Regions from separate parts of the Homo sapiens genome. Here regions 2, 3 and 4 are each linked to region 1. The links come from fine-mapping of genetic effects on gene expression. A gene starts in region 1. Each other region holds a variant in brackets. All regions are shown on one strand. Distances are from middle to middle.

Evidence for each region. PIP is the estimated chance that this variant, and not a neighbour inherited with it, causes the effect. A credible set is the group of variants that fine-mapping cannot tell apart.
Region 2: its variant is the best candidate, but not a certain one, in a credible set for the expression of MYOM2 in ovary (GTEx, PIP 0.90).
Region 3: its variant is the best candidate, but not a certain one, in a credible set for the expression of MYOM2 in thyroid (GTEx, PIP 0.52).
Region 4: its variant is the best candidate, but not a certain one, in a credible set for the expression of MYOM2 in tibial nerve (GTEx, PIP 0.72).

The regions. Positions count from the first base shown.
Region 1 is chr8:2,041,096-2,048,827 of GRCh38, reverse strand. MYOM2 (myomesin 2) reads right to left here and starts at 3,782. Exons shown (of 37, transcript NM_003970.4): 1 at 3,660-3,782.
Region 2 is chr8:1,718,111-1,725,842 of GRCh38, reverse strand. No RefSeq gene overlaps it. Among named protein-coding and RNA genes, the nearest start is that of CLN8, 42 kb to the left of the region's middle. The variant C/T (reference allele first, on the strand shown) is at 4,009.
Region 3 is chr8:2,122,390-2,127,389 of GRCh38, reverse strand. It overlaps MYOM2 (myomesin 2), which reads right to left. Exons shown (of 37, transcript NM_003970.4): 29 at 4,025-4,138; 30 at 3,748-3,835; 31 at 3,173-3,211. Among named protein-coding and RNA genes, the nearest start is that of MIR7160, 48 kb to the right of the region's middle. The variant A/G (reference allele first, on the strand shown) is at 1,952.
Region 4 is chr8:2,147,578-2,155,309 of GRCh38, reverse strand. No RefSeq gene overlaps it. Among named protein-coding and RNA genes, the nearest start is that of MIR7160, 75 kb to the right of the region's middle. The variant G/A (reference allele first, on the strand shown) is at 3,248.

The sequences.
Region 1 (7,732 bases):
ACAGAGCGAGACTCCATCTCAAAAAAAAAAATAAAATAAAAATAAAAAATAAAATAAATAAATAAATAAATAAAAGCATATCTCCTCCACCCGCCCTGATATTGAAGGCAGTATCATAGTGCAGAGGTCAAGCGCCCAGGTTTTGATGTCTGGTAGACCTGGGATCGAATTCTGACTCCAGCATTCTGATGAGGCCTGGGGTAGCTTCTAGCTCCTCTAGCTCTGGCGTTCCATATTGAATCTGCATCATGCCTGGCCCTGGCCCTGGTACCGAAATCGGTTGCTGTCTCTGTTATGCTGCTGCTGTTATCATGGTTCAAGAATTCTGCAGACAGGAAAAGGTATCTGAGAAAATCTATGTATTGCTTCACTATTTGAAATCTCCCCAGATGCAGCTCACTGGGATTTTCCAATGAGTTAATCAAGGTGGATCTTCAAGAAACGCTTCCTGCTCAGAAACCCATTTACTCTCTCTGGAGTTCACCAGCAGGGTGCTGGGAAGAGCTCACTGAAATGAAGTTGGACCAAGGTTGGGGAAGACGTTTCAGCTTCCATCCGGTTTCCTATCCAAGGTTCTTCTGGGATCAGCCTGACGAATACCAGGCAATTCCACTCCAGCAGACGCATGAGCAATCCCCAGTACCTGCTATTGCAGCAGGGGCTCATGTGTCATCACAGTATCTACTTACACTTATGTTGAGTTAAACCTCAGATGTGTTTGTATTTCTTGGTAAAGGGAAGAGTCAAAATGTGACCTATTAGGTCAAAGGAGAGAATGAGCTACATTGAAATAAGAGGAGAATCGCCCTGGATGGAAATCCTCCTCCTTAGACCTAAGACCTGGAAGAATGTGAAACGGCTCAGGTCTTGAGAGCTCACAGACTAGCTATCCTTCAACCAGTCTGTAACGTCCTGTCCAATGCAACCTATGTATCACTGACGTGACATCCGGTCCTGTGGGCCTGGAAGTCTTCAAACACTTCATGTGTGAGGGGCTACACTTTGTAGTGCTTAGCAAGGCAGAGCTGGGATCACGTGTGCACACTTCCTGCAATCCTCACTCCAATGGTACCTTACTGTGGAAGTCTCCCCGGGAAGTCTTTGGATGGGGGTAACAGGGCACTTTGCCACGTTTATCCCCACATGTATTCCCTGCTCACTTCATGCTCAGGACCACCAAAATCAGGAGGTGTCAGAGGCTTTGCAGAATCCATCAGCCTCAGTTGATTCCACAAGTATGGGGTCACTTGCAACGTGCCAGCCAAGCCTAAATCAGAACCCTTGGATTTCAACAATGAAAACACCTTAGAGCTCCTGGCTCGGGAGAGTAGCAAGCTCAAGTCTTCTGCGCATTTGACTCCCAGTGCCAATGTGCCCTCAACTCCACTTTTATCAATCACATGCCCAACCCAGAAAACCAGCAGGACTGCACGTCCAGCCTCACCCACCCTGAATGTGTGTCCCCTCCGCAATCTCTTCACTCCTTGGGGGACTTCCTATGTTAGAACTTCCCCAGTGTCCCTCACCCAGCCTGGGCCACCACCTCCTGGCCGGGTGTGATGACGTCTTTGCAAGCAAATCCCCACTGACTCAGCACGTGCTGGGTGCCTGCAGCCCTGGCAGCACAGGGCCCTTCTGAGTGGAGGGAACCCTGGAGAGGACTTGCCAAATGCACCCTACAGGTGGAGCATCCCTTATCCAAAATGCTTGGACCAGAAGAGTTTCCAATTCCCGATTTGTTTTTCAGACTGTGGAATACTTGCATTTATACTTACTGGTTGAGCAACTCAAATCCAGAAATTGGATACTTGAGATGCTCATGTAAGCATTTCCTTTGAGAGTCATACCAGCGCTCACAAAGTTTCAGAATTTAGAGCATTCTGGATTTCTGATCTTCAGATTTGGAATGATCAACCTGTACTATTTATGACACTATAAAGAAAATGACAGGACCTGGGCCGATCAGCTCCCCAATGTCCCTCTACTGTCTACATAGAAAGCTGTTTTCCTTTTTAAGGAACTATCTCAGACATGTGTTAAATACCCCCTACACACACCAACCAAAAAAAAAAAAAAGAAAAAAGAAAGAGAGAGAGAAAGAAAGCAGCTTTTCCTCGCAGGGTAGTTTTTGATGTGAGTCCCTGGGGCTCAGGCGCATTGGGAGGCTGAGACTCCAGTGGGGACCTGCTGACCTTCAGCTCAGGGGCCTCCACCTGCTCTGCTGTAAAACAGGGGGCTGAGTGAGGTGGCAGCTAACAGTCCCCCAGCTTGGACAGCCTGTGTGTAGATAATCCTGGCGCCACGCTGTACTGTTAGCACAGACCGTCCCCAGGGAAATATGACTTGCCCGGGTCACCGGTAGGGCCACGGCCGAACCCAGGCGCCAGCTGACTCTCCTGACAGCGTCCAGCCCACTTTCCACCACAGCCCAGCTCCCCGGCCACTCCCGGAATGCTCCTGACACGTTTAGGAATCATGACACCAGGATGAAACGCGAGCCTCTCCTCCAGTGCAGGGGACCACGTGTCTGATATCCCCATCCTAATTCCTTCCTGCAAACAACGTGTGGAGCCCATTCCTCATGTCACCAGGATGGGTTTTAATTTGCAAAAATGTTTGAAGTACAAAACATTGACTTCCACTTAATGAAGGAAATTGTTTGTACAGTTAAAAATGTCAAAGTCAATAAATACACCAAATTAAAGCTTTCTAGAGGGGAAAGGGACTCCCAGACACGCAGCGTTGGCCTGTGCCACAAGTGGCTAAGCCCTTGGCTCCCAAGACAAGTTTTAGCTTGGGACTTGGTTTATTAAATAACGCCTTAAATTATCTTTGTTCCACGCTTTCTTTGAGTCCTGTTTTACTTCTACTTAGTAAGAAAGGAATGTGAAATGGAGAATTAGAAAAGGCCAGGTGTTCCCAGTGATGGCAAACCCCTTCCTTCCGTTTGCCTCCGGTGCCTTCCACGTGCAACCACCCAGCCCCACTGTCTTTCTCCAGCAGGTTGCATTTCAAGAGCACGCCCTGAGAAGGCACAGCCTCTATCAGCGGAGTGGAGCTGAAGAAGTCTGAAGGGTCACAACACACCCAACAGCACAAAGAAGAAAACAGCCGTAAGAACGCTGTCATTTTTGGGCAAAAACTTGCAAGTCCTGACAAGGATTGTTCTCTTTCCCATACCGTGGATAATATAGGCTAGGTCTAAGCTGAATGACCCTCGACTCTTTTTTCCCTTAAGAAAATATCCAGTTTTATTATTTCACACCTTTATAAGTCAGCCCTCTCCTCGGGGGAGGCTTTCGTTTCTGAGAATCTCATGAAACTTGCAGACATCAGTCCACTGACTGGGGGGCCCCCTGGGGCCACGATGAGACCAGGGCTAAAACCCAAAGCACACGCCGCAGGGTGCTAAACGGCACTTAGCAAAGACCACGGCTGTGGGAAATAAAATGTTAGTTGAGCATAAAACCTCGTCAAAGAAATACAGATCCCAGAACTAATTGCTCTGTTTTCCACAGTAAAGGGTGCCTGCGACGGGGTGCACTGGCTCTCTCTTCTTGACCCTGAAGTAGAGGTACTTAGAAAATGTGAGTGCAGAAGTTACCGGTCCTCCCCTTAAAGCCACAAATTAGAAAAGGCAAGAAGAGAAAGACACTTACCCAGACAGAAAGGAAAATTGCAAGGAGGAGAGAGAATTCCTGACCACCGGCTCACCAAGCCACCCACACTCCAGCCGAGGAAGGCAGAGCTGACTCCTGCAAAGCAAGCGCCTGTGCCTCCCTCCCGTTTAAGGTCTGAGGAGCTACTATATATAGACGCCTGGGCCTGCCTCTCCCCACATCAATACCCACATCGTAAATCACCAGCCTGACCTCAGGAGGAAAAGCTTCTTGTTCAAACTGAGGGCGGGGGAAATCACGATTCAAAACTGGAACGTGTCCTTTCTGAGTCCCAAACTGCACTTTTCCCAGGAAACCGGGTGTGACACTTCAGCCCCCGACCCAGAAAGAGAGGGCAGGGCACTGACTTCCCACGCTCCCTCCCCGCAACTCTCCTCCATGAGTTCTAATCCTTACGTGTGAATTCTCAGACATATCTTCAATCCTTTCGAGCTACAGGTTCCCTGGCTCACAAATTGCAACTCCTGAATGAGTCTTTAATAATGACATGGATTTCAGTGAGCATTTGTGCCATTCGCAGGCCTGGACACCCGAGTTGAGGTCGGCTGTGGAGGGAGGGAGGTGCACAAGCCCCTGGGTTTGTGAGCGTGTGTGTGCATGTTCGTGTGTTTGTTCGTTTTTTTTTTTTTATTTCAAGAACGACTCAGGTCTTCACTCGATTGTATCTTAGGGCTATTTTAGCAAGAACTGCCTACCCAAAAGAGGAGCGGTGCCTAGTCGGCAAGTCGGGGCTTATTTATAGCCATTACCACAGACGTACACTGCGTCTACACCACACGGATAATTGCAGGGTGCCCGTCGTTTCGCACAGCGTGTGTCCAAATATAGATAACACACACCTGGCACGGTCCTGGGCTGCAGCCTGGCCAAGAGGCGGGGCCTCAAGGGGATGCCCCCATCTGAGGACCCGGAGAATCACACTCCAGCTGCACCTCACCACAGGGGCTGAGGACTTCGGCCAGCTGCTCAGCCCACGGGGGCTATGCTCCCCAGCTCTAAAACGCATGGAATAACAACTTTCCTGTAAGTTTGTTGTGACAAGTAGAGAAAATATGATAAGAGAATTGCCTTAAGAAACTCCACGTTCTCACACTGGGGTATCAGAGGCACAGCCAAGGACCAGCGAGCAGGTGGATGGAGGCGAAGATCAGATACGAGAAAGACGCGAGCACAGCCTCTTGCTGGGCCCCAGAGCGTTCTGGATGCTGGATCAGGAGGCGAGTGTTTCTGTCTTCTTCCCCTTCGTATTCTGATGGCCTAGCATTTAATTTAATTAGTGTTTGTTGAGTGATTTCTTAGTCTATTCAGGCTGCTTTAGCAAAACACCATAGACCGTGTAGCTTATAAAACACAGGAGCTTCTTTCCCACAGTTCTGGGGACTGGAAGTCCAAGATCCAGGTACCAGCAGACACTGCCTGGGGAGAGCCTTCTGGTTCTGGGACGGCGCGGTCCCTGAGTCCTCACCAAGTCAAGGGGCCAGGCCGCTCTTGGGGCCTCTGTATGAGGATACTGATCCCACTCGGGAGGTTCCACCTCCATGACCTTGTCACTTCCCTAAGGCCCCACCTCCTCACACCATCGTTTTGGGGGTTAGGGTTTTAACCCACATATTTTGGGGGGGTTGCAAACAGCAAGACCAGAGCAAGCAATGTTTACTTCCGGTTTATCAGCATCTCCTTCTCTAGCGAATCCATTTCTCAGGGACCTGGGGGACTTCCCTTCAGCCCTTCTGCCCCCCTGCCTCTGAGTGTGGCCGACACTGGAGGGGCAGTGATGGTGCCTCGTCCCCTCAGGTGGCATCTCAGTCCTCTGAGTCCCAGTCCTGGCATCTCAGTCGCCTGGGTCCCAGTCCTAGCATCTCAGGAGGGGACAATCTCATCCCGGGGAGGGGCCTCTCCTGAGAGAAGGAAGGGCCAGCACACTCCTCCTCCTTTTCTGACATTTCACGGTGGCTGTGCCCTCCTTCTGTGATATAGAAATCCAGTGCTGCGTCTAAGAAAGCCTGGATCTTTCAGCCACACCACCCAGAGAGCAGAGTGTGACCCGGGACACAGATAGGCTCCTGATGGGGACAGAGCTTCGCCTTCTGCTGGGGACAGGAGACCCCTCCCCACCCTCCTCGTAGACCCCCATCTCCCTGAGCCATGCCTGCCCCTGCCCACCCGGGATGTAGCTTCCAAAACTCCCTGGGTGAGGTGCACCTGCAGGAAGCCTGGAGCCAAGAAGGGACAAAAGACGGAGGGAGGCGGTGGGACCAGGCATGGGCCCCGCATTCTCCACCAGACACACCAGCTCTGGGGCAGACAGGCTCCTTCTTGCCGGAGTTCCTTGGGCTGACTTTCTATCATCGGCCATCAAGAGAATCCTGACTAAGACAAAGGAAGAGTCCAGCAATCTCATTTCCACAGCTCAAATTGGCAGCCTGTGAATGGAAAACAGTTGGCCTCACTGAGGATTTCCCACAACATAGAAAAGAAGATCGAAATGCAAAGAGTGACATTCTAAAACCACGTGCCTTCAATCCTGTGGAACCCCAGGCCAGACCATTCATGGGTGAAGTTATGTTCTATACAGCAACAATCCCCAACTGTTTTGGCAACAAGGACCGGTTTCGTGGAAGACAATTTTTCCAAGAACGGTGGAGAGGGGGATAGTTTTGGGATGAAACTGCTCCACCTCGGATCATCAGGCATAAGATTCTCATAAGGAGCGTCCAGCCTAGATCCCTCGCGTGTGCAGGTCACAGTAGGGTTTGTATTCCTGTGAGAATCTAAGGCCGCGGCTCTGAGAGGAGCTGGAGCTCCGGCGAGAATACTCAGTGGCCGCCATTCACCGCGCCATGCGGCCCAGCTCCTCACCGGCCACGGACCCCGAGGCTGGGGTTCAGGACCCCTGTTATATTGCACAGAGCCAAAACTGACATTCGATTCAGGAAAATCAGTTTGGATATTTGAAAGAAATAAAATTATTCTTAAGATATTTTGTTCACTTCCATGCATTCCGTCTCAGAAAACAAATTTTCTGTTTTTTAGAAATTATTTTAGAAATTATCCATGTATTTTAGAAATTATCCATCCCATGTATTTTAGAAATTATCCATCCAACAGGCCAAATATTCAGTTTTATGATTCAAAGGATGACAGCTCACCAGAAAGAGGCTTCGCAGTTGCAGCCACAGCACAGGGAGGGGCAGGGGGTCACCCTCCGTGCTCTCCCAAACCAGGGGGTGATGAGGCCAACAACAAAGGCGTCTGGTCCCCACAGAGCACGTGTGCACAGGCCGCAGAAGGGAGACTGGAAAATCTGGAGGCAGAAAACTCCCTTGAGGGCATCAGCCCCCATCAGCACTGCCTCTCATTCCCAAATCCTGAAAACCTGAATCTCAGAAAACAGCCCCACTTTAAAGAAAAGAGTTTTTTTCTTTATTTTTATTGACTGATGACTGATTGATTGAGATGGCGTCTGGCTCTGTCGCCCAGGCTGGAGTGCAGTGGTAACCTCCGACTCTTGGGTTCAAGTGAGCCTCCCACCTCAGCCTCCCAAGTAGCTGGTATTACAAGTGTGTGCCACCAGGCCCGGATATATATATATATATATATATATATATATATATATATATATATATATATATATATTTTTGGTATTTTTAGTAGAGACAAGGTTTCACCATATTGGTGAACAGGCTGGTCTCGAACTCCTGTCCTCAAGTGACCCACCCATCTCGGTCTCCCAAAGTGCTGGGATTACAAGCGTGAGCCACCATACCCAACCTTGTTCCTTTTTTCTGCCTTTAGAATGTCTTTGTTCCTATTTATGGTTGTGCAGTTCTGTATTTAGAATTTAAACCTCAAGAAAATCACATCCACTTAGATGAATTAACTGTAATGTTTAAATGTGAACCTTCTGAAAATGTTGATTGTGAGAGTAACCTTGTTTAGAGAAATACAATTGTCACCTTCTTAATTTCCAAGAAGTTCAATAGATGTCTCTTTGAGGCCATGCTTAATCCACTAATTGATGAAATAGGTCGCTGACATTCAGAGGAAGCGCC
Region 2 (7,732 bases), 320 kb after region 1:
ACAGGTACCCGCCACCATGCCCGGCTAATTTTTTGTATTTTTAGTAGAGACAGGGTTTCACCATGCTGGCCAGGCTGGTCTCGAATTCCTGACCTCAGGTGATGTTCCCGCCTCACCCTCCCAAAGTGCTGGGATTACAGGCATGAGCGACCATGCCTCTTTGCCAATTTTTAAATTCGGTTATTTGTTTTCTTACTGTTGAGTTTTAAGAGCTGTTTGTATATTTTGGATGCCAGTCTTTTATTAGATAAATGTTTTGCAAATATTTTCTCCCAGTCTGTGGTTTGTCAATTCATTTTCTGAACACAGTCTTTCAAATGAATAGATGGGTTTTAAAATTTTAATGAATTCGAACTTATCAATCCTTTCGTTAATGGATCATGCCTTTGATGTTGTATCTAAAAGATCACCACCAAACTAGAGGTCACCTAGATGTTCTCCTATGTTATCTTCTGGAAGTTTTATAGCTTTGCATTTTACATTTAGGTCTATGATCTATTTTTTATTTTAAAATTTTCTATATTTTTACTTTTTATTTTTTTGAGACAGGGTCTTGCTTTGTCATCCATGCTGGAGTACAGTGGTGTGATCTTGGCTCACTGTAGCATCGACCTCCTGGGCTCAAGCGATCCTCCTGCTTCAGCCTCCCAAGTAGCTGGGACTATAGGTGCCGCCACCACACCTGGCTAATTGTATTTATTTTTTGTAGAGTCAGGGTGTCTCTATGTTGCCCAAGCTGGTCTCACATTCCTGGGCTCAAGTGATTCTCCCACCTCAAACTCCCAAAGTGCTGGGATTACAGGAGTGAACCACTGTGCCAGCCAGGCCATGATCCATTGTTAATAAGACTTTGTGAAAGGTCTAAAGTCTAAATCTAGATTCTTTTTTTTTGTCTGTGGCTGTCCAGCTGTTCTAGCACTATTTGTTTAAAAAACGATCTTTTCAGCACTGACTTGCATTTGTTCCTTTGTCAAAGATCAGTTGACTACATTCATGTGGGTCTGTTTCTGGGTTCTCAATTCTGTTTCATTGATCTGGTCTGTTATTTAGCAAATCACACACCATCCTGATTGCTGTGGTGTTAGAGTCAGACTCGAAGGTGGGAAGTGTCACTCCTCTGACTTTGTTTTCCTCCCTCCCTATTTTGTTGGCTGTTCTGGGTCTTTGCCTCTCCATATAAACTTTAGAATCCGTTTGTCAACAGTCACAAGGTAACTTGCTGGGATTTTTATTGCAGTTGCATTAAAGATGTTTTGAAATTTCAGATTCCAATTGTTAATGGCTTCTATGTAAGAAAGCAATTGATTTTTCATATTAACTTTTTATCCTGCAACCTAGCTGTAATTGCTTTTGGTTCCATGAGTGTTTTTTTGTTGTTGTTGTTTCTTTGGTATTTTCTACAGACAATTGTCATCTGTAAACAAAGACAGATTTTTAATCTCTTCCCAATGCGTGTGCCTCGTCTTTCCTTTCCTTGCTTTATTGTGTTAGCTGGGATCTTCAGTGTGATGATGAACAGTAGTGGTGAGAGGGATGTTCCTGCCCTGTTCCTGATCCTACTGGGGAGCCTTCCAGTTTCTCATAATTAAATAGGGTGCTTGTTGTAGACTTTTGCAGATGCAGATTTTTTTTTTTTTTTTTTTTTTTTTTTTTTTGAGACGGGGTCTCGCTCTCTCTCCCAGCCTGCAGTGCAGTGGCGCGATCTCAGCTCACTGCAAGCTCAGCCTCCCGGGTTCACGCCATTCTCCTGCCTCAGCCTCCCGAGTAGCTGGGACTACAGGCACTGGCCACCACGCCCGGCTAATTTTTTGTATTTTTAGTAGAGATGGGGTTTCACCATATTAGCCAGGATGGTCTCGATCTCCTGACTTCGTGATCCGCCCGCCTCAGCCTCCCAAAGTGCTGGGATTACAGGCGTGAGCCACCGCGCCCGGCTGATGTTCTTTATCAAGTTGAGAAAGTACCCTTTATTCCGAGTTTGCTGAGACTCTTCACTGTGAATGGTGTTGGGTTCTGCCAAATGCTTTTTCTGTATCTACTGATAAAATTTATGATTTTTTTCTTTAGCCTGTTGATGTGGTGATTACATTAATTGATTTTCAAATGTTTATAACAGTCTTGTGTACTGGGGATAAATCCCTCTTGGTTGTGGTATACAATTCTTTTTACATATCGTTGCGCTTGATTTGTTATTTTTGGGTTTTTCTTTTTTTGAGGATTTTGCATCTATGTTCCTGAGACATACTGATTTTAGAATTCCTTTCTTTTAATATCTTTGTTTGGCTTTGGTTTTAGGGGAATCCTGGCCTCAGAATGAGTTAGGAAGTAGTACCTCTGCTTCTATTTTCTAAAAGACATTATGGAGAATTGGTGTGATTCTTATAGTTACTGGTGAGTTTGGTGGAACTCAACAGTGACCTCATCTGGGATGGGTGCTTTCTGTTTGGGAAGAAGGTTATTTAATTTCTTTAATAAATACAGTCCTATTCAGAATACATATTTCCACTTAGGTGTGTTTTGTTGGATTGTATCTTCCTAGGAATTGGTTCATTTCGTCTACGTTATCAAGTTTATAGACATTAGTTGTTTATACAATTCATTTTTTTTTTGAAACAGGTTCTCTCTCAATCACCCAGGCTGGAATGCAGGGGTGCAATCGGGGTTCACTGCAGCCTTGACCTAGTAGCTGGGACTGCAGCTACTATATCAGGTGCATGCACCAGAATCAGGTGCTTGCTACTACACCAGGCTAATTTTTTTAGATTATACTTTAAGTTCTGGGGCACATGAGCAGAACGTGCAGTTTTGTTACATAGGTATACATGTGCCATAGTGGTTTCTGCATCCATCAACCCATCATCTACATTAGGTGTTTCTCCTAATGCTATCTCTCCTCTAGCCCCCACCCACCGACAGGCCCTGATGTGTGATGTTCCCCTCCCTGTGTCCATGTGTTCTCATTGTTCATCTCCCACTCATGAGTAAGAACATGAGGTGTTTGGTTTTCTGTTCTTGTGTTAGTTGCTGAGAATGATGGTGTCCAGCTTCATCCCTGTCCCTGCAAATGACATTAACTCATCCTTTTTTATGGTTGCATATTATTCCATGGTGTATATGTATCACATTTTCTTTATCCAGTCTATCATTTGTGGGCATTTTGGTTAGTTCCAAGTCTTCGTTATTGTGAATAGCGCCGCAATAAACATACGTGTGAATGCACCTTTATAGTAGAAAGATGTATAATCCTTTGTGTGTATACCCAGTAATGGGATTGCTGGGTCAAATGCTATTTCTGCTTCTAGATCCTTGAGGAATCGCTACAGTATCTTCCACAATGGTTGAACTAATTTATACTCCCACCAACAGTGTAAAAGCATTCCTATTTCTCCACATCATCTCTGACATCTGTTTCCTGCCTTTTTAATGATCACCGTTCTAACTGGCGTGAGATGGTACCTCATTGTGGTTTTGATTTGCATTTCTCTAGTGATCAGTGATGGTGAGCTTTTTTTCAATGTTTTTTGGCCGCATAAATGTCTTCTTTTGAGAAGTATCTGTTCCTATCTCCCACCTGTTGATGGAGTGGTTTGTTTTTTTCTTGTAAATTTGTTATAGTTCTTTGTAGATTCTGGATATTAGCCCTTTGTCATATGGATAGAATGCAAAAATTTTCTGCCATTCTGTAGGTTGCCTGTTCACTCTGATGATAGGTTCTTTTGCTGTGCAGAAGCTCTTTAGTTTAATTAGATCCCATTTGTTAATTTTGGCTTTACTTGCCCTTGCTTTTGGTGTTTTATTCACCAAAACTTTTTGCCCATGCCTATGTCCTGAGTGGTGTTGCCTAGGTTTTCTTCTAGGGTTTTTATGGTTTTAGGTTTTACATTTAAGTCGTTAATCCATCTTGAGTTAATTTTTGTATAAAGTGTAAGGAAGGGGTCCAGTTTCAGTTTTGTGCATATGACTAGGTAGTTTTCCTAGCACTATTTATTAATTAGAGAATCCTTTCCC[C/T]ATTTCTTGTTTTTGTCAAGTTTGTCAAAGATCAGATGGTTTTAGATGTGTGGTGTTATTTCTGAGGGCTCTGTTCTGTTCCATTTGTCTATATCTGTTTTGGTACCAGTACCATGCTCTTTTGGTTACTGTAGCCTTGTAGTATAGTTTGAAGTCAGGTAGTGTGATGCCTCCAGCTTTGTTCTTTTTGCTTGTGATTGTCTTGGCTATGTGGGCTCCTTTTTGGTTCCATATGAAATTTAAAGTAGTTTTTTCCAATTCTGTGAAGAAAGTCAATGGTAGCTTGATGGCCATAGCATTGAATCTGTAAATTACCTTGGGCAGTATGGCCATTTTCCCGATATTGATTCCTGCTATCCATGAGCATGGAATGTTGTTCCATTTATTTGTGTCCTCTCTCATTTTCTTGAGCAGTGGTTTGTAGTTCTTCTTGAAGAGGTCCTTCACATCCCTTGTAAGTTGGATTCCTAGGTATTTTATTCTCTTGGTAGCAATCGTGAGTGAGAGGTCACTCATGATTTGGCTGTCGTTTGTCTGTTATTGGTGTATAGGAATGCTTGTGATTTTTGAATATGGATTTTGTATCCTTAGACTTTGCTGAAGTTGCTTATCAGCTTAAGGAGATTTTGGGCTGAGACGATGGGGTTTTCTAAATATACAGTCATGTCATCTGCAAACAGAGACAATTTGACTTCCTCTTTTCCTAATTGAGTACCCTTTATTTCTTTCTCTTACGTGATTGCCCTGGTCAGAACTTCCAATACTATGTTGAATAGGAGTGGTTAGAGAAGGAAGCCTTATTTTGTGCTGGTTTTCTTTTTTTTTTTTTTTCTTTTTCTTTTTTTTTAAATTATACTTTAAGTTTTAGGGTATATGTGCACAACGTGCAGGTTTGTTACATATGTAAACATGTGCCATGTTGGTGTGCTGCACCCATTAACTCATCATTTAGCATTAGGTGTATCTCCTAATGCTATCCCTCCACCCTCCCCCAACCCCACAACAGGCCCCGGTGTGTGATGTTCCCCTTCCTGTTTCCATGTGTTCTCATTGTTCAATTCCCACCTATGCATGAGAACATGCAGTGTTTGTTTTTTTATCCTTGCAATAGTTTGCTCAGAATGATGGTTTCCAGCTTCATCCATGTCCCTACAAAGGACATGAAGTCATCATTTTTTATGGCTGCATAGTATTCCATGGTGTATATTTGCCACATTTTCTTAATCCAGTCTATCATTGTTGGACATTTGGGTTGGTTCCAAGTCTTTGCTATTGTGAATAGTGGCGCAATAAACATATGTGTGCATGTGTCTTTATAGCATCATGATTTATAATCCTTTGGGTATATACCCAGTAATGGGATGGCTGGGTCAAATGGTATTTCTAGTTCTAGATCCCTGAGGAATCACCACACTGACTTCCACAATGGTTGAACTAGTTTACAGTCCCACCAACAGTGTAAAAGTGTTCCTATTTCTCCACATCCTCTCCAGCACCTGTTGTCTCCTGACTTTTTAATGATCACCATTCTAACTGGTGTGAGATGGTATCTCACTGTGGTTTTGATTTGCATTTCTCTGATGGCCAGTGATGATGAGCATTTTTTCATGTGTCTTTTGGCTGCATAAATGTCTTCTTTTGAGAAGTGTCTGTTCATATCCTTTGCCCACTTTTTGATGGGGTTGTTTGTTTTTTTTCTTGCAAATTTGTTGGAGTTCATTGTAGATTCTGGATATTAGCCCTTTGTCAGATGAGTAGATTGCAAAAATTTTCTCCCATTCTGTAGGTTGCCTGTTTACTCTGATGGTAGTTTCTTTTGCTGTTCAGAAGCTCTTTAGTTTAATTAGATCCCATTTGTCAATTATGGCTTTTGTTGCCATTGCTTTTGGTGTTTTAGACATGAAGTCCTTGCCCATGCCTATGTCCTGAATGGTAATGCCTAGGTTTTCTTCTAGGGTTTTTATGATTTTAGATCTAACATTTAAGTCTTTAGTCCGTCTTGAATTAATTTTTGTATAAGGTGTAAGGAAGGGATCCAGTTTCAGCTTTCTACATATGGCTAGCCAGTTTTCCCAGCACCATTTATTAAATAGGGAGTCCTTTCCCCATTGCTTGTTTTTGTCAGGTTTGTCAAAGATCAGATGGTTGTAGATATGTGGCATTATTTCTGAGGGCTCTGTTCTGTTCCATTGGTCTATATCTCTGTTTTGGTACCAGTACCATGCTGTTTTGGTTACTGTAGCCTTGTAGTATAGTTTGAAGTCAGGTAGCGTGATGCCTCCAGCTTTGTTCTTTTGGCTTAGGATTGACTTGGCAATGCGGGCTCTTTCTTGGTTCCATATGAACTTTAAAGTAGTTTTTTCCAATTCTGTGAAGAAAGTCATTGGTAGCTTGATGGGGATGGCATTGAATCTATAAATTACCTTGGGCAGTATGGCCATTTTCATGATATTGATTCTTCCTACCCATGAGCATGGAATGTTCTATGTGTTTGTATCCTCTTTTATTTCATTGAGTAGTGGTTTGTAGTTCTCCTTGAAGAGGTCTTTCACATCCCTTGTAGTTGTATTCCTAGGTATTTTATTCTCTTTGAAGCAAACGTGAATGGGAGTTCACTCATGATTTGGCTCTCTGTTTGTCTGTTATTGGTGTATAAGAATGCTTGTGATTTTTGCACATTGATTTCGTATCCTGAGACTTTGCTGAAGTTGCCTATCAGCTTAAGGAGATTTTGGGCTGAGACAGTGGGGTTTTCTAGATATACAATCATGTCATCTGCAAACAAGGACAATTTGACTTCCTCTTTCCCTAATTGAATACCCTTTATTTCCTTCTCCTGCCTGATTGCCCTGGCCAGAACTTCCAACACTCTGTTGAATAGGAGTGGTGAGAGAGGGCATCCTTGTCTTGTGCCAGTTTTCAAAGGGAATGCTTCCAGTTTTTGTCCATTCACTATGATATTGGCTGTGGGTTTGTCATAGATAGCTCTTATTATTTTGAGATATGTCCCATCAATACCTAGTTTATTGAGAGCTTTTAGCACGAAGGGTTGTTGAATTTTGTCAAAGGCCTTTTCTGCATCTATTGAGATAATCATGTGGTTTTTGTCTTTGGCTCTGTTTAATATGCTGGATTACATTTATTGATTTGCGTATATTGAACCAGCCTTGCTTCCCAGGGATGAAGCCCACTTGATCATGGTGGATAAGCTTTTTGATGTGCTGCTGGATTCGGTTTGCCAGTATTTTATTGAGGATTTTTGCATCGATGTTGATCAGGGATATTGGTCTAAAATTCTCTTTTTTTGTTGTGTCTCTGCCAGGCTTTGGTATCAGGATGATGCTGGCCTCATAAAATGAGTTAGGGAGGATTCCCTCTTTTTCTATTGATTGGAATAATTTCAGAAAGATGGTACCAGCTCCTCTTTGTACTTTTGGTAGAGTTCGGCTGTGAATCCATGTGGTCCTGGACTTTTTTTAGTTGGTAGGCTATTAATTATTGCTTCAATTTCAGACCCTGTTATTGGTCTGTTCAAGGGTTCAACTTCTTCCTGGTTTAGTCTTGGGAGAGGGTATGTGTCGAGCAATTTATCCATTTCTTCTAGATTTTCTAGTTTATTTGCATAGAGGTGTTTATAGTATTCTCTGATGGTAGTTTGTATTTCTGTGGGATCGGTGGTGATATCCCGTTTATCATTTTTTATTGTGTCTATTTGATTCTTCTC
Region 3 (5,000 bases), 80 kb before region 1:
TGCGCAGGGAACCGAGTGAGCTCAGGACTTGGAGGGTCCCTGCATCTGGGCCGGCTGCAGACAGGAGGGTTATTGAAAATCTGTAAGGCAGAGATCCCTGACCACCATCTCCCCTCCCCAGTCAGGTGGGACTCTGTTTCCTCTACTCGGAGACAGGAGTTCACCCTTCAAGGAATCACAACTTGAAAAAGAGCTTGGGAACTGGGTGAAGTCAACACACTGCAGAGCCATATTCCCCCACCCGACCCCCCTTCCCTCTGCTCAAATTCCCTGACACTGACTCATGAGACCAACACCACCCTAACCAGGCAGAACACGGGAGGGTCGGAGCAGCCTGAGAGCAAAGCACACAGACCAGAAGCAGCTCCCCCAGCCTCTATCAGCCTCTCCCAGTGCTCCCCCAGCCTCCGTCAGCCTCTCTCAGTGCTTCCCCATCCTCCCCCAGTGCTCCTCCAGCCTCTATCTGCCTCCCCCAGTGCTCCCCCAGCCTCCATCAGCCTCTCTCAATGCTCCCTCAGCATCCCCCAGTGCTCCTCCAGCCTCTATCAACCTCTCCCAGTGCTCCCCCAGACTTTATCAGCCTCCCCCAGTGCTCCCCCAGCCTCCATCAGCCTCTCCTAGTACTCCCCCATCCTCCCCCAGTGGTCCTCCAGCCTCTATCAGCCTCCCCCAGTGCTCACCCAGCCTCCATCAGCCTCCCTCAGTGCTCCCCCAGCCTCCATCAGCCTCTCCCGGTGCTTCCCCAGCCTGTATCAGCCTCCCCCAATGCTCCCCCAGCCTCCCAGGGCTCCTGTGTATGAGTCTGTATGCATCAGTGTGTGAGTCTACACAAGTGTGTGCCCATATGAGTAAGTGTGTGTATGAGTGTGTGTGTCAGTGTGTGAGTTCACATGTAAGTGTGTGCATGTATGAGTGTGTGAGTGTGTAGGGTGTGGGTACACTGGTGTGTGTCAGTGTGTGTGTATGTCTGAGTGGGAAATCGTGTGTGTGTGACTGCTGTGTGAGTGTGGGGATGTGAGTGTGTGGGTGTGAGTGTGTTGACAACATGCCTTCCACTTCTTCCATTCTGATATGTCAGGGAGAGACTCCAGCCCATGGCGTCCAGTTTCCCATGAGAATAAAGGCTCCCTATTGATATGGGAAGTTCTGGGCCTGTCCCCTCTGTCCCTATCCAACTCCCAACATAATGTGCATGTCCCCTCAGCCGCTGCATCTCTGCTTCGAGGTGACAAGCACACAGTGAGGACTCTGCTTTTTGCATTTTCCTTATAAACACTCACTCTTCAAGACCTTCTGGTCAGTTCTATTATCCATGAGTGGCCCTTGGACACATTATGAGATATTTTAACACAAAATAATTTCATGAGTATAAGAGTAAAGCCACATTTTTACTACCCAAAGCAATCTAAAGATTGAATGCAATTCTTATCAAAATTTCGATGTTGTTTTTCACAGAAATAGAAAAATAATCCTTGTCCAGGCACAGTGGCTCAAGCATGTAATCCCAGCACTTAGGGAGGCCTCGGTGGGCGGGCGGGCGGATCACAATGTCAGGAAATGGAGACCATCCTGGCCAGCATGGTGAAACCCCATCTCTACTAAAAATGCAAAAAAATTAGCTGGGTGTGGTGATGCGTGCCTGTAGTCCCAGCTACTCTGGAGACTGAGGTAGGAAAATCGCTTGAACCCAGGAGATGGAGGTTGCAGTGAGCCGAGATTCACCCACTGCACTACAGCCTGGCAACAGGGAAAGACTCCGTCTCAAAAAAAAAAAAAAAAAAAAAAGGAAAAATAATCCTAAAAGTCGTATGCAACTAGGAAAGCCTCTAATAGCCTAAACAATCCTTAGGAAAAAGAACAAAGCTGGAGGCATCGCACTCCTGATTTCAAAATATATAGTTACAGAAACCAAAACAGCATGGCACTGACATTAGAACAGACAGATCGGCCA[A/G]TGGAACAGGATAAAGAGCCCAGAAATGAAACTAAATATTGATGGTCAATTGATTTTCAACAAAGATGCCAAGAAGACACAATAGGGAAAGACAGTCTCTTTAATCAGTGGTGCTGGAAACACTGAATATCCACATGCAGAAGAGTGAAATTGGCGCTTTAACTTATGCCACATGGAAAAATCAACTCAAATTGGATAAAAGACTTAAACATAAGACCTGAAACTGCGAAGCCGCTGGAAGGAAGCTCGTGGGGGAGATGCTTTGCAGCATGGATCTGGGCAGTGATCGCTTGGATAGGACATCAAAAATACAGGCAACAAAAGCAAAAGTAAATAAATGGTACTGCACAAAACTAAAAAGCTTCTGCACAGTAAAGAAAACAATTGACAAAAGGAAGAAAGAACCCATGGATTGGGAGAAACTATATTCAAGCTATGCATTGGCTAAGGGACTAATATTCAAAATCCATAAGGAACTGAACTCCACAGGAAAAAAACAAATAACCCATTAAAAATGGGCAAAGGATCTGAACAGATATTTCTCAAAAGAAGACAGAAAAATGGCCAACAGATACTTGAAAAATACTGAACATCTCTAATCATCAGGGAAATGCAAATTAAAACTGCAGTGAGATATCATCTCACACCTGTTAGAATGGCTATTATCAAAAAGACAAAAGATAAAACACTGGCAAGCAGAGAAAGGAACACTTGTGCATGATTGGTGGCATGTAAATTAATATAGCCACTATAGAAAAGAGTGTGGAGTTTCCTCCAAAAACAAGCTGAACTGACATGTGATCCAGCAATCCCACCTCTGGGCATTTATTTGTAAAGATAACATATGGTTTAATGTGTACGACGCAAAGTGAGAGGTTTAAAAATTCATTACGGCTATTCAACATATGTAAAAAGCTGCTCATAGCAATTATATACAAAGCAGTCATGCCAATTAACCTAAGACAGGATGGAAGAAGTGGCTAATCAGGACGCCCAACCTGAGTTTCTTAAAGTAAAACTCAAACTCCAGACAAAACTGAGGGAAGTCCTTTAAAAAGCTTCATCGGCAGCAGATCACCACCCTGCCCTTCCATCCAGGGCCTCCCACAGAACACGCACCACAGCTCCATGGTGCCCTCTTTTGCAGCAGTGACTTCCCGTGTCAGGAAATAGTGATTTCAGCACCCCAAATGACTTGAAAATTAAAAGGCATTTACTTACCACAGACTCTACTCATTGCCAAAATCATATCATCATACACTGAAAATGAGAAGGGATACGCACCATTACGACATGTAACTTTAACCGAAAGCAGCATTTTCAATGTTTAATTAAATCGATGCAGGAAATTGTGATGTTCAGTTGAAAAATGAATCATTAAAATGGCAATATTTATCCATAAAAGACTTATGTGTGCGATAAATCCTTCTAACCTATTCACTTTTAAAAAAGGATCAAGAACGTTTTACTCAACATAAATCCAACTCTACATTCAACTGAATCACTGCCTCAGTGTTTCCATCATTTTAACTGCATTAGTAATGCGTTGCTTGGCTTCTGATGATGGACCGAAATGACGTTTCATATAAACCCAGAGTAATATCATACATTATTCTAAAACACTGAAAAAACTCTGAAAGCAACCAAAGAACAAATAGTTTTTTTCTACAGTGTTACTGCTAAAGACACAATGTGTGCTATAGCTGAGGCTAGACATAGACCTGCCTTCAGAATACATCCCATCCTGTTGGTGAAAGGAATTTCTTGTTCACAGAACAAAGGAGGTTTTCTTTTACCTTTGCCAGCTATTTCAAGGATGGACACATCTTGGCCTCTGTCATCTTTCAAGGTTGCCTTGTATTCACCGTGGTCCTTCTTTGACAACTACAAAGAAAACACATTCCATATTTATGTAAAGTCAATACTGCAATCTTAGAAAACGTAATAAACTCTAATACATTTTCTTTGCAAACCACCGAAATTCAGGATGCAAATTAGAGGATTGTAGAATTTACGAGTTATTTGAAAGTGCCGTTTTTGTTTTGCTTTCTTGTGTTACTCAATGCCTGATACCTTTGGGATGAGGAGCTCACAGATTCCCCTCTCCAGGTTAGGCAGTGTCTCCGTTTCATACAGAACATCATCCTTGAGCCATTTGAAAACGGTTTCTTTCTTGGTGTTTGCAACCTGTGAGGTAGAAAGCTTAAGTTTAGTGTGTAAATCATTCTGACTCATGAGAAAAAGAAAGTCTATTAGAATCTTAAATCACAGAGCCCCCCCCTCAAAAAACCTTAGTTTTTACTATAGACAGTCTCAGACGAAGGCTTATGGAAAAGCTGTCGCTCCCAATAACGTCAAACACATTTCTAAATTCCAGCTTCTAAGAAAATTAAGTCCTCACAGTTGCTCACAGAAGGACAAATGATTCTCGTCATTCTAGTCCATGAAATTAGACTAGGCATAAAGATCTTTTGGTCTATATGAAATGTCATTAACAAAGACAAGTCTTAAGCAATATATATGGGGATTTCTGAATAATAGAGAATATTCTGAGGGGTCTGTAAAGCTGGTTGGCAGCTGCTCTTTTAACAGCATCCCATTTCAGGTACAGGGACACAAAGAAAATGAAATCTTAACACAAAAATGCTCACTAGAGGTGAGGACCTTCCCTATACTGAAATTCCTCACAATTCAATCGCTGGCTAGAAACTAAGCTTTGCGGAACTCCGAAGATAAATGAGCATTCCAATTCACATGCTCCGGCATTGGTCTGAGGGACGAGGAAGAATTCTGATTCAGCATGGCAGAATGTTTGAATCCCATGAGATTATACAAGTCTCACAATTCGATGTTCACATCCCATGTGAATTCAAGAAGAGTGATGTTGATGACAAAAGAATGAAAATGATTCAACAGTGTCATCAGCTCTGCTAGAGTAACAGTGCAACACAGCTTAGAATTTCCACATCCGCTATGGGAAATGGCATCGTTCTCGACAGCACTGGGACTGAATCTCTGTGAAGCAGGGGTTTCGTCTGTTTCACTAACA
Region 4 (7,732 bases), 110 kb before region 1:
CTTACAATCATGGCGGAAGGGAAAGGGGAAGCAAGGTGCCTTCTTCACCAGGCAGCAGGAAGAAGTGCTGAGTGAAGGGGGAAGAGCCCCTTGTAAAATCATCAGATCTCATGAGAACTCACTATCAGGAGAACAGCATGGGGGAAACCAACCCCATGATTCAATCACCTCCACCTGGTCCCTGTCTTGACATGTGGGGACTGTGGGGATTCTGGGGATGACAGTTCAAGATGAGATTTGGGTGGGGACACAAAGCTGAACCCTATCAGGTGCAGAGCCAAGCCTCCAACAGAGCCAGGACCAAAGCTGGATTCTGTGTTCTTCCTGGTACACTCCGGGTTCATTGCTTTTTGACAGCAATATATTAAAAGAAATTATGTTTGTGTTACTGAGAAGCAGACTCACATCTTAGTAACATAAAAGCAGATATGAAGGAATGTGAATGATGAACCAGAGTGGAAGCAAAGAATTAAAGCAGTGCAGAGGCAGTGAGGGGCTGGGTGTTTCTTTTGGTGTCATAAAGTTCAATCAGTTTGGGATCTTTTATTTTAATTTTCATTTTAATGTACCTTTTTAATATTCCCTTTTATTATTCCCCTTCAATATACCTTTTAAATATGCCCCCCTTTAAAAAATATGGTCATCATCCTACAGGTAAAATGATGTCTAAATAAGATATTCATCTATTTTTAAGCCAGTGAAAAATGGGACTATTATATGCAATCTTTCCTTCCATTCATTGTTTAACTGCAGCTCAAAAAGGCAATTAAAAAAATAAAAATCACAAGTGTTGACCATGTTTAGCCTCTACAAAACAAAGCATAAGAGAAGTTTCTAATGGCTCCCAACCACTGCTTTTTCCCAAACATGAGGAAGTCTTTATGAAAATTGCGAGGCTGAACCACCATGGAGAAAAAGCTCAAGGGCAGATCAGGACACCAGGGTGAACACAGCTCCCTGAAGACCCAGAAACTCCTTTCTCAGGCCCTGCCTCACCCTGTGATAGCTTTGCAGTATCACATGCTTCATGTGAAATATTTCAATGCTGTAATTTACTGCTTTGAAAAATGAGTGAGCCCGCTCCCTTTGACATGCCTCTTTGAAACATGGAATATTTAAAATTCATACCCAAACTTAATGTATAGATAGATCACACATTTTTATGACTTCACTGATGTAATAAGAGCCTTGTAATATCTCAAAAGATACGTTTTATCCCTCCTAATGTGTATCATGTGCAGATTAAGAAGCTATATCATTGCCTTCAAAATGACCTGCTATTTCCTGGAAACTGTAATTTGCTGGACCTGTCCTTGTCACTGGGGTAAGTATAATGCCTTTAATAATCTTCCAGTCACTAAGTGATGTGTTTGCATCAAAAAGATGGATCTGGCTTGGCGGCAGGGGAGGCGCTCCATGTCTGTTCTCCCAGTGACATCTAGAGGCTTCACAGGGCCTGGAGCAGAGTGAAGCAGGTTGGAGGACTTTTCTCCAGGTTCACTGAATTTAGTCATAAGAATGTTTTAAAGGCTGAGAATGAGAGCATTTCAGGGCACGACTGCCTTATAGCATGACTCCCAAGTGGGGCAGACAAAAACCGGGTGAGAGGCAGCGTCCACAGGAAAGGATCTGGCCGAATCCTTTGAAGACACAGAGAAGCCACTGAGAGCTCTCCCATAAACCGCCACCCTCAGTTGAGCTCAAAACTCCAAGCCACTGCGAACCAGCCTCGGGAAGGCTTTTAAACAGAGTTCCTTTTCTAACAAGGTAGGCATCAAAGGTGATCTAAGGGAAGCAAGTGTGTTTTAAAAAACACCCTCACGCCTATAATCCCAGCACTTTGGGAGCTGTAGGCAGGTGGATCACCTGAGGTCAGGAGTTCAAGACCAGCCTGGCCAACATGGTGAAACCCCGTCTCTACTAAAAATACAAAAAACTAGCCAGATGTGGGGGGGAGGGGGCGGGCCCTGTAATCCCAGCTACTTGGGAAGCTGAGGCAGAAGAATCGCTTGAACCCAGGAGGCAGAGGTTGCAGTGAGCCGAGATCATGCACTCCAGCCTAGGCAACAGAGTGAGACTCTGTCAAAAAAAGAAAAAACAAAAAACAAAACAACAACAACCAAAAAAAAAACCCACCCCAGGTGGCCCATGCTTTCAGCCCGAGAGTCTCAGAAGAAAGCTCAGAGGCCCGTGTGACTGGCCAACATCCAGCCCACCTGCCCCAGGCCACACTGTGCTTGAAAGCTGGAGCGGCCAGCAGGGGCATCTCAGCACCAGGGAAATCGGCTGGACTTGACTCGACAGATCGCAGACTGCCAGCCAAGGGCTCCACACTGAGTCACCTCCTGTGTGCTGTGGTGCGCGTGTGCCCGATAGACAAAGGTAAACCTGGGTGTTGGTGATTTACTTTATATGGGAATCACAAATGTCATCTATAGTTTTATCTAGACATGTGTGATGGAGATACATACTTTGACCAGTTGTGTTAATTATTGCCAGCAATGTGTGCAAAAGTCAACTTTCTACTCCTAGAGGGACAAAACAATTTTGAAAGCAATGAGGAACAAGCCCAACTTTCCAACAGCCTCATTTTAAAAAGTGAATGTGCAGAGGAGGCCTAAAGACAGAGCGGATATATCCCTCAACATCTATAAGACCACATATAAGTGGGACAGGAGGAGAGACCCGCACTCCACATAAAAACTTCCATGAAGAGAAACGATAAACAGTGAAACAGGAGACGGAGCCCAGAAACACACCCGCACACATATGGTTGACGGTTTTTGACAAAATTGCTGAGAACACACAATGGAGAAAGGACAGTGTCCTCAATCAACGGTGTTGGGGAAACTAGATCTCCACAGGCAGAGGGTGAAATTGGCCGTTATCAGACACCATAGGCAAAAATCAACTCAAAATAGATTAAAGACTTCAACGTAAGACCTGAAACTGTGAAGCTCTAAAAGAAAACAGGGAAAAGCTCCATGACACTGGTCCAGGCAAAGATGTTTTTGGATATGACCCCAAAAGCACAGGCAACAAAAGCAAACACAAACAAATGAGATTGCAACAAACGGAAAAGCTTCTGCACAGCAAAGGAAACAACAGAACAAAGACGCTGAGGTGGATGGATCACCTGAGATCAGGTGTTAAAGACCAGCCTGGCCAATATGGTGAAACCCCGTCTCTACTAAAAAAACAAAATTTAGCCAAGCGTGGTGGCAGGTGCCTGTAGTCCCAGCTACTC[G/A]TGAGGCTGAGACAGAAGAATCACTTGAACCTGGGAGGTGGAGGTTGCAGTGAGACAAGATAGTGCCACTGCACTCCAGCCTGGGTGACAGAGTGAGACTCTATCTCAAAAAAAAAAAAAAAAAAAAAAGGAAAAGAAAATATTATCCAAAAATACATAAGGAACTCAAACACCTCAATAACAATAAAAGAAAGAACTCAATTAAAAACTGGGGCAAAGGCTCTGAAGAGACATATCTCAAAAGAAGATATCAGAATGGCCAATCTGAAAAAAAATGCTCAATATAAATAATCATCAGGGAAATGCAAATTAAAACTATAATGCGCTGTCACTTATACACAACTGTTCAGATGCTGTTGTCGAAAAGAGACGCCGCATGTTGATGAGGGTGTGCAGAAGAGGAACCCCTTGTGCTCTGTTAGCGGGGATGTAAATTAATACAGCCATCCTGAGGAGCAGTGTGGAAATTCCTCAAAACACTACAGATAGGATTACCATACGACCCAGCAATCCCACCTCTGGCTATGTACCCAAAGGAAATAAAATGAGTGAGTGGAAGAGAACCTGCACCCCGTGTTCATGGAGCGCTGTTCACGGTACCCAAGATAGAAAATCAACCTCAGTGTCTATCAAGGGATGAAAAGATAATGGAAATGTAGAAATGGAATACCAAAGTGAGCCTTAAAAAAGAAGGAACTCCTGTCCTTTGCGGCATCATGGATAAGCATGGAAGACATTCTGCTAAGTGAAATAAGTCAGGCTGAGAAAGACAAATACCACATCTTCTCATTCATATGTGGAATCTAAAAAACGTCAGACTCATACAAGTAGAGGGTAGAATGGTGGTTAAATGGTGGTTACCAGAGGCTGGGGCAAGGACCAGATGGAGAAATGAGAGATGACGGCCACAGGGTACCAAGTTTCAGTGGGATAGGAAGGCTAAGCTTAGAGACTGATCTCACACAGTGGTCAGTATAATAGATAATAATGCATTGTGTATTTCAAAATTGCTGAAAGAGCAGAATTTCAGTGTTTTCACCACAAAAAAAATGGTTAGTATGTGAGGTGATGGATGTGTGAATTAGCCTGATTTAGTTATTCCACATTGTAAACATATGGCAAAACTTCACAGTTCACCCTACAAATATATACTGCAGTTATTGTCAATTAAACATAAAATATTTAAAAAAAATCATGTAGACACACACGCACAAAGAGGATTGGTAAAGAATGGCCTAAAACTGGGAGGCTGAGACAGGTGGATCACTTGAGGTCAGGAGTTCAAGACCAGCCTGGCCAGCATGGTGAAACGCTGTCTCTACTAAAAATACAAAAATTAGCCAGGCCTGGTGGTGGATGCCTATAGTCCCAGATACTTGGGAGGCTGAGGCAGGAGAATCGCTTGAACTCGGGGGACAGAGGCTGCAGTGAGCTGAGATTATACCACTGCACTCCAGCCTGGCTGACAGAGTAAGAACTTGTCTTAAAAAAAGAAAAAAAACAGTTATATTCCTTTGTTGAATGTTGAATGTCATCATTACTGTAAGTGTGCTTTTATGAAATTTAATTTCTAAATCTGCTTATGGTTTCTAATCTTCTAAGTCCTGAAAGTTCCCGTGATGACTCCCACTGTACTCCTGGGTTACAGGTTTTGTGGGAAAAAAACAGCGCGCGCTTGGCCAGGTGCGGTGGCTCACCTGTGTAATCCTAGCACTTTGGGAGGCCGAGGCGAGCAGATCATTTGAGGTCAGGAGTTCGAGACCAGCCTGGCCAGCACGGCAAAACCCCATCTCTACTAAAAACATGAAAATCAGCCAGGCGTGGTGGCGGGCACATACAGTCCCAGCTACCTGGGAGGCTGAGGCAGGAAAATGGCTTGAACCCAGGAGGTGCAGGTTGCAGTGAGCCGAGATCAATCATGCCATTGCACTCCAGCCTGGGCAACTGAGTAAGACACCATCTCACCAAAAAAAAAAAAAAAAAAAGAAAGAAAGAAAAAAGAAAAAAAAAATGCACGCTCTGCCATCAGCCACATATTTGTCACCCATGGAGTGAGGCTGGTGTGGTCCATACATGACCTGTCCATGGTGCATATTTTCACTCTCAGCCAGTGAAACACACACAGAATGATCCTCCTTTTCCAAAAATGAAAGTGCAGCTGTGATACAGTATAAGGAATAGGTCTTGGCTTAATGTTTGTACAGTAAAGAAACTTTGTGTGAATCCTTTAGAAAGTAGCCAATTTTTTAATAAATGGTATAAATGCCTCTTCGTTTATCTGCAGTACATCTCACTGTTCCATATCCATTTAACATAAAGTGAGGTCTACTTAATCCTACAAAATAAATGGTGCCTCTGTTCCTGGGTCTCTCTATCTCTGCACGAAGCAGCACTTCCTCCAACATGTCCTTCCGAGGCTTGAAAAATAACGTGGTTCCCAGTACGGGGTCTTGGGCTCATTTTCTAACCTTACACAATTTCATTCTGGCCTGAGAAGGTAGAGTTGAAAGAAATTAATTGGCTTCAAAATTATTTCTTAAAAATGGGATATGATCACTTCTCTCCCTTTGGCTAAAATCAAGCATAAAAATTAGTCTATGGGCAGTTTTACTTACTTTTGTAAAATGCAAAATCCTTCTATGTCTCATATGAGCTGAACACACTAGCACATTCTCCAGGTAATAAGCAGGAATGAGTTAGTCTGCAAAAAATGTTTGTCTCACTCTTGTTAGCCCTTGACTCCATTTTGGAAGCCAATGACTCCTAACATTGTTAGTTTGAGGAACTATTGTTTTTTTTCATGCTGAGTCAAATTTCCACCATTTACACTCCCACAGACACAACCTTTACTCTCTTGGGCTCAGCATCTCCCAGGAAGATAACTTCTTCAGCTGGGCACCAGCAATTTTTATCTAACGATTCTCAAGAGGTGGCCACAGAAGCTGTTGAACTGATAGTCATTTTTAGCAGCTATTTGATTTATTTAAAAAGCCTCACTTCCACCCCGAAGCCCCGTATTTCATAATCCTGTGAATGTCAAACTCATTCTTTCTGTAACTGAGCTCTCAGAATACACATGCCATCACACACCCAGGACGTGCAGCCCCGATGGAGTCAGGAGACCCCTGGGCAGGTCCCGGAAGGAGAACTGCTCTGTGGAACAGCTGGCCTGGGCTCTCCAAAATTACCCGCGTCACTAATGACCAAGAAGGGTCTTCCAGAGAAGTAAAGCTGTGGCAACTAAACCCAACACGTGAGCCCAAACCGCATCCTGGACTCCAGCTGGGGAACGCCTCCAGGGACATTATCGGGATGACTGGCAAGGTTAGCATATGGACTGCAGATCACGCTGCTGTGTGACGGTCGGGTCCCTTGACTTTAAGAGCTGTGCTGTGGAAACACAAGGGAACACTCTGCTCCTTGTTCTTGGGAAAAAACCAAAGCACTAAGGGACAGAGAAGTGGGATGCCGACAACGTATGAAATGCATTTCCAAATGGCTCTAGGAAAATTTAATTTTTTCACAGAATCAATACCTCGGCAAATGACTCTGTACCCTCCTGGTGTCTTCCCGTTCCTTGTTTTGTGTCATCCTCACAGCTGTCAAATGAAACGACTCAGGCGAAGAGCTCCAACCACGGCCCTCTCCGTGCTGAGCATTCGCTGCCTCCACTGCCACATGCACGGATTCTTAAAAAGCGACGAAAGGGCGGAACCCTGACTTCCTCCAAGAGGGGCAAGCCCAGGACTTCCAGGCACAGGCAGTGGGCGACCTCGATGTCTTTCCAGGTGCTCAGTTCTCCGCATTCTGCCCTGAGGGAGTAGGGGTGATCCGACTGGCATCACATATCTTGAGATATTCATTTGCATAAACACAGCGGCACCCAGATCTTGGCTTCTAATCCCACCCTCCAGTAAAAGGAACCAGGGGTCCTTGGAGAAATGGGTCTAGGACTGGAGCAGGGAACGCACAGATGAGCCTGGGTGTCCTGCAGTGCCAGAAAACCAGGCTGTGCCCAAAGAGGCAGCTGTGAACAGACCCCGGAGGCCGGCAGAAAGGGCTCCCTGTGGCCAACACTGGAAAAACCTGAGCAAGAAAGTAGGCTGGGCGCGGTGGCTCACGCCTGTAATCCCAGCACTTTGGGAGGCCAAGGCAGGTGGATCACCTGAGGTCAGGAGTTCAAGAACAGCCTGGCCAACATGGTGAAACCCCATCTCTACTAAATATACAAAAATTAGCTGGGCATGGTGGCAGGTGCCTGTAATCCCAGGTACTCAGGAGCCTGAGGCAGAAGAACTGCTTGAACCTGGGAAGCAGAGGTTGCAGTGAGCCGAGATCGTGCCACTGCACTCCAGCCTGAGCAACAAAGGGAGACTGTGTCTCAAAAAAAAAAAAAAAAGAAAGAAAAGAAAGAAAATGCATGGCGAAACATGGGTCACATCCCAGAGCTGAAATACAGCACAAGAGTCCATACAGATGTCAGTA